2 linked regions of the Homo sapiens genome follow. The protein of the gene in region 1 purifies or fractionates together with the protein of each later gene. This does not show direct contact. Each region holds a gene or a part of one and is shown in the gene's direction. Other genes may lie near its edges.

Evidence for each region. Proteins that work in one complex are often made in the same cells at the same time.
Region 2: the proteins of PHGDH (region 1) and ASS1 fractionate together in Homo sapiens (co-fractionation; one large-scale study listed by BioGRID). This does not show direct contact.

What each region holds. Positions count from the first base shown.
Region 1 is NC_000001.11:119,709,713-119,715,471, forward strand, and holds the start of PHGDH (D-3-phosphoglycerate dehydrogenase), read left to right. Parts: upstream 1-2,221; 5' UTR 2,222-2,310; coding exon 2,311-2,448; intron 2,449-3,018; exon of another isoform or gene 3,019-3,086; coding exon of another isoform or gene 3,087-3,146; intron 3,147-3,199; exon of another isoform or gene 3,200-3,748; intron 3,749-5,759. UniProt on the Homo sapiens protein: Catalyzes the reversible oxidation of 3-phospho-D-glycerate to 3-phosphonooxypyruvate, the first step of the phosphorylated L-serine biosynthesis pathway.
Region 2 is NC_000009.12:130,479,461-130,483,008, forward strand, and holds part of ASS1 (argininosuccinate synthase), read left to right. Parts: intron 1-255; coding exon 256-340; intron 341-924; coding exon 925-989; intron 990-3,548. UniProt on the Homo sapiens protein: One of the enzymes of the urea cycle, the metabolic pathway transforming neurotoxic amonia produced by protein catabolism into inocuous urea in the liver of ureotelic animals.

The sequences.
Region 1 (5,759 bases):
GGCTGTGTCTTATGTGTCACAGGGCCTAGCCCATAGGAGGTACTGGATAAATTAATTTTTGAATCAAACCTCTTCTGAGCCTCTGTGATGTGGAAGGCATGGTGCTAGGCACTACTGGGGGTATACAAAATCGTGTCTCTGATTTAAGGAAATGAGAGTTCATGGGGAACAAGACATGAAAAGTTCATAAATATATTGCTTAAGGCACTGTGAGATAACTTGAAGTTAATTCTATAGAAATTTAAAAGGAGGGAACATTTCTGACTTATGTAACAATTATCACACACCCTCCTTTTCACTTGGAAATGGACTCTTAATCTGTTAATTATTTTCTTAACGGTTTAGAAGTGTCTTTTATTGTGTGGCTTGGATCTGTTTAAAAAGTAGGTGGGTCATAAATAATAAATAAAGAAAACAGGTGATCAGGCTTAGGAGGCCCTCTGGGTTGTGCGTTCAGACAGTATCCAAGAAGTTTGACTTGGTGTGAAAGGGTGGGATTACATGTTAATGATAGCAGGGTTTAGATTCTACACTGAAAGGAAGCAGTTAGTGAGCCCTGGGAGGAGTTGAAGGAAAGCAGTTACAAAAATGGATGCTTCCCAAGACCCTCCATTAAGCCTCCTGGGATAGGTCCCCTGTCTGTCCCTAGACTCCAGGGTACTGCTGGGCACTTCAAGAGAGACAGAGAATTTGAATACTCATGAGTCTTGGAATGTAGGAATAACAATTCATCCGAACAAGCAAACATGATAGACAATTTTTTTTTTTACCCACTGAGGACATTGTGTCTAAAAATCTGATTTGTGCCCAGGAATTATCTGTATAGAATTTTCATTACTTTATAGAATTGATATTGCATAGTTCTGTAGGATAAGGATCTAGCACTTGAGTTATGAATAGCTCAGGATGACATAACACACAATGGTTAGTTGGACTGGATATGTCCATAAAGCTGAATTCTAATTCAACTATGAGCATCTCTGATTCTGCTTCTGATTCTAGGTGACTTTAATCCCAAATTGAATTTTCTGACATTTCTGTAAAATGGGGCATGAGAGAGCACGTCGGTTATGGGGTTTAAATATAAAAGAGTTAAGAGCTGAGAAGTGCCTCCTTGGTCAATTAAACCACACTGACATCCCGTTTTCCTTTTCTTCTTTTTCATAATTAGAGAGGAAGTGGAGGGAAAGGAAATAAATAACTTTAACAAAGTATGCCTAGTTTAAATGCACCAGGTCCCCGCTCTTTTATAAACTCATAATTCTCATTGCATCACTAATTTGAAATTAATCACAGCTCCTTGGTGTCTCAGAAAGCTTCCTATTGCTTTTCACTACGTAACTTTCCAAGTCTGTGTGTTTGGTACTCTAGGATGTTAGGCCACCAGAGGAAAGAGGATGTATCTTTTTTTTTTTTATACTTTAAGTTTTAGGGTACATGTGCACAATGCGCAGGTTAGTTACATATGTATACATGTGCCATGCTGGTGTGCTGCACCCATTAACTCGTCATTTAGCATTAGGTATATCTCCTAATGCTATCCCTCCCCCCCTCCCCCCACCCCACAACAGTCCCCAGAGTGTGATGTTCCCCTTCCTGTGTCCATGTGTTCTCATTGTTCAATTCCCACCTATGAGTGAGAATATGCGGTGTTTGGTTTTTTGTTCTTGCGATAGTTTACTGAGAATGATGATTTCCAATTTCATCCATGTCCCTACAAAGGACATGAACTCATCATTTTTTATGGCTGCATAGTATTCCATGGTGTATATGTGCCATATTTTCTTAATCCAGTCTATCATTGTTGGACATTTTCTTTTTGATAGTCGAATTCCCTTCAACGTCTAGCACAGTGCCTTGCACATTTACCCACTCAAAAAAAATTTCGTAAGGAATTAATAAATGAATCCTTAGGAGGAAAAGTGAAAATGAAGTTTTTCTCTCAGGATGAGGTGTATTTCTCCGTTCATTTCAGATATGCATCAGCTAGTCAGCGTAAATTGTGCTTTTTATATGCTCACCAGGTGTAGGTAAGAGCTTTGGCTGAGATGGAGAAATTCATCGCGGGAGGATAATAAAGCGGGCAGGGATTTGGCAACCTCAGAGCCGCGAGGAGGAGGCGGAGTCGCGGAGAGTTTGAGTATTTCCGTCCAATCAAAAGGAGACTGTAAGAGGAGGAGGAGGAGGAGATGACTGGGGAGCGGGAGCTGGAGAATACTGCCCAGTTACTCTAGCGCGCCAGGCCGAACCGCAGCTTCTTGGCTTAGGTACTTCTACTCACAGCGGCCGATTCCGAGGCCAACTCCAGCAATGGCTTTTGCAAATCTGCGGAAAGTGCTCATCAGTGACAGCCTGGACCCTTGCTGCCGGAAGATCTTGCAAGATGGAGGGCTGCAGGTGGTGGAAAAGCAGAACCTTAGCAAAGAGGAGCTGATAGCGGAGCTGCAGGTAAGGCGAGAGAGAGAAAATTGAGGTCTCTAGGGCAACCTCCATGGAAAAAGGCTGGCTGCGCCCAGGCCAGCGCGCCCCCCTCGCATGCACCCCGTATCAATTAGTTCCGGGGCCTCCTGAGATTGGGGGGTAGAGAAGAACGGGGGCGGGAGGAGGCAGAAAGAGGGAAGAACAAACGGCGGCGAGATGCAAACTTTTCTTTTAGTTTGCAACCGCGTCTTTCACGTTGGCATGCCTCCGCTAGCATTGCAAAGTGCGGGCTGCTCCAACTGGTCCTGCAGGCTGCTCGCGGATGCCAGCGCGGGATGCCAGCGCGGCGCCCCAGCGCCTTAGCGCGCAATTGTTCTGGCAGCCTCGCGCCGCCTCTCCCCCAACCCCCAACCGCCTCCGCGCGGGGCGATCGGGAGAGGGGCCCCAAAGTGGCTTCTTTGCGGGGAACCCAGGGACTGGCGATTCTTCCCAACCAAGTTCTGGGCCGCCCCGCCGATTCTAGCCTGCCTTGGCGGTGGCGGGGTTGGGGGGGTCGGGGGGCGGGGGGAAGCTGGCGGAGACCCAACCAGTCTGGTGGCTGCTGGGGCAGCTGGAGGGGAAGGCAGCCCTCGTAAGGCAGCAAACACGTACCCGCCCCTCGTCTGATGCAAGACTGCTCCGTGCTTTCGCCGCCCCTCTGCCTCCTGGGAGCCTTCGGAGGAAAGGGAGGCGGGCGGGGAGCGCTGGGGTCCAGATTTAGCCTCCTCCCCACCTTTGGTTTATCGCTGGTTGGGAGTGACCAGACTCGACTAGAATCCGATCCCAAACGCTCCCAGATGATTTATAGTCTTAGCAAATTTTTATCTCCTTTTGTTGTGATATATAATTAATCTACTTCAAATCTTTATCCACCGTGTTTGAAAAGGCCTGCTGGGCCTGGTGGCCTTGTCCGGAATATTTATTTTGTGAACTCTTCACTCCAGTGCCTGCACTTTCGACCTCTGTAGTCGACCCAGCTGCCCAGTCTCTACCTCACCTGATCCAGTATATTCTCCCCCACCCTCCAAATCGCACAACCGCCTTCTGCCCGCCTCAGCCCTGTCCACCACCTTCAGCCGTCTCCTCCTCCGAGGACCCCTTAGACCGCAGAGGCTGCTGTTGTTGCTTTAGTTGTGCCACAACCACGTGGTCCTGGAAACTGCCTCGCTCACTTTGTCTGCCTTTGTATCTGCTGGCGTGGATCTTGTCACCATGGCATGACACTATATCCAAGTATCCAGCTCTGCCCTGTACTCAGAAGAATTTGGTCCCTGCCTTCAAGAAGTTTGTAAGCTGGTTAGGGAGCATGGCTAATACGCAGGAGACAGTTGAGCAGATGACACAAGAGCATAGCCCCGAATTAGACCATCCAGCTCCCTAACCTTTGCGTGTTCCCCTTCTGGAAAAGCCAGAGAAAGGTCCAATCATCATGCACAGAATTGGTGGGCAAGGGCTTAGGACTTGAGTAGGATTGGACGGGTGGCAGGCTCCTCACATCTGTCACCTCCTTTCTTGTGTGAAATTGTATCAGTGGCTCTGGGGAACAACCAGGAAAGGCAGTGGGGTGTCCTGCAGAACAGCCTCTGACTCTCACCTCCACCAGAGCACCAGGTTGGGAAGAGGGTGGCAATCAAGTGCTTTCACCTCTCTAAAGGAAATTAGAAACCTGATACCCCAGTGAGGGGGTGGGGATAGGGAGGGATGAGGGCAGAATTGAGAGGAATGGGAGGCCTCATCCATAATGAGGGGTTGTTCCATGAAGTCAGGAATCAGCTGGGTGGATGCTGGGAGTCTGGTGCTGAAACTTGGAGAACATTTTAAAGGCGCTGAAAACTCTTGGCAGGAGAGGAGGAGTGTTTGTTGGCTAACTTGACTGCTGGGCATTTTTGGACTGTTTGGGAGGGCTCAGCTTTCTTGTCTGTCTTTGCAACACATTTGGTTCAGAATGCCAATTAATCTCCTTGGTCAGCCCACTGAAGGGTCCTCATTTCTACACTATGCCTTTTTATTCTGCATGAAGAGGTGTCTGGCATAGTGTCTCCTGCCCTCCCCCACTGAAGTCTCTTTAATGCTGAAGGAAGCTTCGGCAGCGTTGCTAGAACCGGGCCTGGCCTTGGTTCCCACTGCCTTGTATTCTGGGCAGGCGGTCTCCTCTCACTCACCCCCTGGTCAGGAAGTACAATCATTCCTCCCTGCCCTTTCAGTGGTGCTTTTCAGACTTGGAGCAAGTCATAGTTCAGTTTAAGGGGTCATGACGAGCATTTTAAAAAACAAAGTAGGAAATATCAGACAGCAATGCAGATAGATAGTAAGGTTGTAAGTATTGTTTCATGAATTTTGTTTCATTTATGTTGTGTAGTTGTATGTGTGTGGCATGTGAGTATGAAATTACAACTTAAAAATGTGTTTCTTGGCCGGGCGCGGTGGCTCACGCCTGTAATCCCAACACTTTGGGAGGGGCCAAAGGAGGCAGATCATTTGAACTGAGGAGGTTGAGACCAGACTGGGCAACATGGCAAAACCCTGTCTCTACAAAAAATACGAACATTAGCTAAGCATCTTGCACAAGCCTGTAGTCTCAGCTACTGGGGGATGGGGTGGAGGGCTGAGGCCCTGGTTGCTGTCACTCTTCCCAACCTGGTGCTCTAGTGGGAGGATCGCTTGAGCCTAGGAGTTTGAGGCTGCAGTAAGCCATGATCTCGCCACTGCAATCCAGCCTGGGCAACAGAGCTAGACCCTGTCCCACCCCTCCACCAACAAAGATGTGTTTCTTACAATGAACCTCAGTCAAAAAAGTTTGGAAAACGTTGGCTTAAAATAATAAAGCATCTTGTTTGGAACTCACATCTTAAATATACCTAATATGCCGGAAAATATTTAAATAATATTACCATGTATCAGTGGCTTTTAAACTTTGACTGTGACCCACAATAAGAAATTTGTTTTATGTCATAACTTAAACACTCATACATATGTGTACACACAGACACACACAAATTTTATGAAATAATACTTACTCTTTTTACATATGATGCATTCTGGTATTTTCTTCTGTTTCATTAAGTAGCATTGCTGGTCAGGACCACTAAACTAAACACTGGTAATGGTATTTAATTTACTGAAGCACATCCATACCTTCATATCAGTACTTGAAGAAAGATTAAGAAGGGAATAAATCTTTCCATGCCAAATTTCTTTTCAAATTTCTTTAAAATAGGAAGTTCCCAGCCTTTACACAAGGATTTAGTTTGCAAAAGTTAAATAACCATCAAATTAATCAGGATCACACATCTTGTGCA
Region 2 (3,548 bases), on another chromosome or scaffold:
AAGGGGCAAAGAGAATGGGAGGGTGGGGGAGAGCGTTTTTATTGCATTTTCTCTTTCATTCTGGGGGGCTTTCTCGCCCCTTCTCTCCCTGCAGCAGGCCTCAACCTGCACAGGGCTTTTGAAGGAGTCATTTGGAGTCCATATCTGTCACATCCATTTAAGGCGTTTCGGGAGGAGGGAGAGGGTGGGGTGGCGGGTGCAGACTCCTCCGCTGAGCCGGGCCCAGAGGCCCACTGCCCTCTCTTCCCACCCTAGGGGTCCCTGTGAAGGTGACCAACGTCAAGGATGGCACCACCCACCAGACCTCCTTGGAGCTCTTCATGTACCTGAACGAAGTCGCGTGAGTGTCTGCAGCCCTGTCCGGCCTCTTGGGAACCGCCGTCTCGGGCGAGCACGAGCCTGGACCGTTGCAGCTAATGGTTGTGGCTGAGGCTCAGGGGTGCGGAGCACAGGCCATGTCCCTTCCCCATAGCCACAGAGTTTCCCGGACCAGGGGGACCCATTTGGCAGGAGAGGCTCCGTGGTCCTTAGCCTTGGAAGATAACAACCCCAGGAGGTCTCCTGCCTCCAAGGGATCATTAGGCCGGGGCTCTCAGGCCCTTGGCTGGATGGGAGGCCAGGATAGAAGGAAAGGGAGCAGTAGTTAGCTGTGGCGCTAGGCAGGGCCCCAGGACACAGGGAACGGAAGGAACAATGTGAACTCACACCTGGGCAATCCCTGCTCTCTCTGGGCCTCAGTTTCCCCACCTGTCCAGTGGGCACCTGGACTAGGTGACCCGGCTCAGATGTCCTCTTGAGTCTTAGATCCTGAAATGCTGCCTAATGTGTGGCCTAAGCTGTGCCCACCCTGGGACAGCCCAGCTGGGTGGGTGACTCTGAGCCTTGCGGTAGCGCCCGAACCTAATGGACCAGTTCTTCCCACAGGGGCAAGCATGGCGTGGGCCGTATTGACATCGTGGAGAACCGCTTCATTGGAATGAAGTCCCGAGGTGAGTCTGCTCAGCCTCCCTCAGGGCCTGCCTCGGGACCCAGCAAACCCAGAGATCCCTGAGACCCTGTCCCCTTTGGACGCTACTACCCCCATGCTCCGTGGGCGACCTTGGGCACGTCCTTTCACCACACCCCGTGAGACCGCAGTTTCCCTCCTGCCAAGTGGGGATCGTGGGCCCTTTGCCCCTGACTTTCAGGGTGTTATGAGAAGAGCTGTCCAAGGGCTGGGAGAGGCCCAGGAGGGCCTGGGGAGTCTCCGAGGAGCAGGGAGGCCAGGGCCAGGCCTGGAGGTCAGGCTGTCTTGTGTCTGGGGTGGGCAGGCCGGGTGTGGAGGCAGACCGTGCAGGCCCGATTTCGTGGTCATTAAGGCCGCATGGAGGCCGCCGGCCAGGCAGGGCGAAAATCCTGCCAGGGGTGGGCGCTGTGGCTGCACAGGCACTGGGAGCCGGCCAGGGCCTAAGGACCTGTCCCAGCATCAGGCACGGCTCACTGGCCCTTTTCTCCAGGGATGGGGCTGTGCCACAGTTGGGGCTGTGCCGCAGTTGAGGCTGAGCTTCAGTGTGACATGCCTGCCACCTCGGCTGGCCTCTAGCCTGCCTAGCCTCGTATCCGCCTGTGGCTGGGCCCAGGAGCAGGGCAGTTGGTCCCCAAGCAGGTGCCTCTGTCTTCTCTTAGTAGCCAAAGCCCATGATTCCCTTTGTCAGCCAATCAGCATTTCATCTTGACCACAACCCTCCTCTCCAGGACTCAGTTTCCCCATTCATACACCAAGGGGATCTCAGCTCCCTGAGGGTCTGCCAGTGTGTGATAAAGCCATGCTGTGTTCTTTCTTGGGGGTCCTAAGAGGGAAAGAGCAAGGTTTCAGCAGTTGCAGCCCCTGAATTGGGCACCTGAATTTTTATACTGGTGGTGGGGTCAGGGCTTCCTGTTTCGGTAAATGTTCAGGTCTCTTTGCTTAGGGTTGATTTGAAAAGATACCACAACCAAATATCACCTGGCCACGGTATAGTCACGGCCCCATGTCTCTCAGGCTATTTTTACTAAGATTCTAAAATCCAAAGAGAGCCGATCACCCCATGTGGGCCAGAAGAAAAGGGTGGTGGTCCGGAGGGCAGGATGCCTGCTTCTGGTCTCAGGTTTGCCCTGCCTTGCCCAACAACCTTGGACTTGTCATCTATCGCTAGGCCTCAGTTTCCCCAAGTGTAATGCGGTAGGCGCTGGGAGTTGCATCACTCTGGCTCTGACCTGTCTGCGTTTCCCTGGAAAGGCATGGCAGCATGGACCGGGGCGGGGACGGGCTTGCCTCGAAAGACATGGGAGCGCGGAAGGGGAGGCAGGCTCGCCTCTTTCTTGTGGCTTTAGCTCCTTGCTTGCTGTTATTCAGGAGAAACAACCTAATTGAAGCTCTGGGGAGGCCTTGAGAACAATGTTACTAATTAGCTGCTCCTTTTTATCCGGGCTTACCTTTGTCTCTTACCTATATTAACATGTGATTAGATGCCCCTTTGTCGCAGCCTGCCCTTGGGAGCCAGCGCGGTGTGCACCCTCCAGGGAGAGCTGGGAGGGACCTTGAGGAGCCACAGACCAGCACCCCATTTACAGATGCGGAAGCCAGGGCTGGGGAGGGGTGGGATAGAGGGCTTGCTTCAAGTCCCAGGCACTTTAGTGGCAGGACCAGGACTGCCATCTGGGCCCAGAGTGGCATGGAGTGGAGGGCTAACAGCTTAGACTGGAGTTGGACAGATCTGGGTTCAAACTCATGTATGGTGGCAGGAACTGGTACACTGGAAGTGCTCCATAAATAGCCATCAGTCCCCCGGGCATGTGGAATGGGGACAGAAGCAGCCCCCATCCTCTGGGAGCTGTCAGTGTGGCGGGGGGTGGGGTGGGTTCCAGTATTGCACCTGTCTTATCATAATAAGGGCCTGCCACAGGCATGCCCTTGCCATGCCTGTGGCAGGCATCACCAGTCAATGCTGGCATTATCCTGTTGACTCCAGAGGTATCTCAGGGCTGCTTGCAGGCACTACCAAATGATCAGGATTGGCATACGTGATGAAAGTGTATTGCCTTCCCTATTGGAAAGATAAGGACTGGCCTGAAGTCACTGTGAAATGGCATCCTGTGGGGTGGGGCGAGTCAAGCAGAGTTGAGCAAAAATGAACTGAAGGAGGTGGTTAGTGATGAAAACCTGGAATGCACTATTCTGAATGTGGAATGGTAGCTGACAGCATTCCACGGAGGCTGGACCTTTTTCCCAGAATGGGGGCCTCATCCCCGTAGAAGGTCAAAGCCATGAGATCAACAGTCTGTTCCAATCCCCGTGGCTCCTTACCACCCACCTGGGGAAAGCTTCCTGGAGCCCAGCCTTCACTCTGCCCTGGTACTTTGTGTGTGCTGTTGGAGGCTCTCCCCAAAAGCACAGAATTTAGTCAGTGTCGTACAGGGAAGAAAATCGGGATTCTGACGGCAAGAACTTGCTGTGTGATCTTAGGCAAGTTTCTCCCTCTGGAACTCCAATTGTCAAGGGGCCAGATGAGGAGGTCGTATCATCTCCC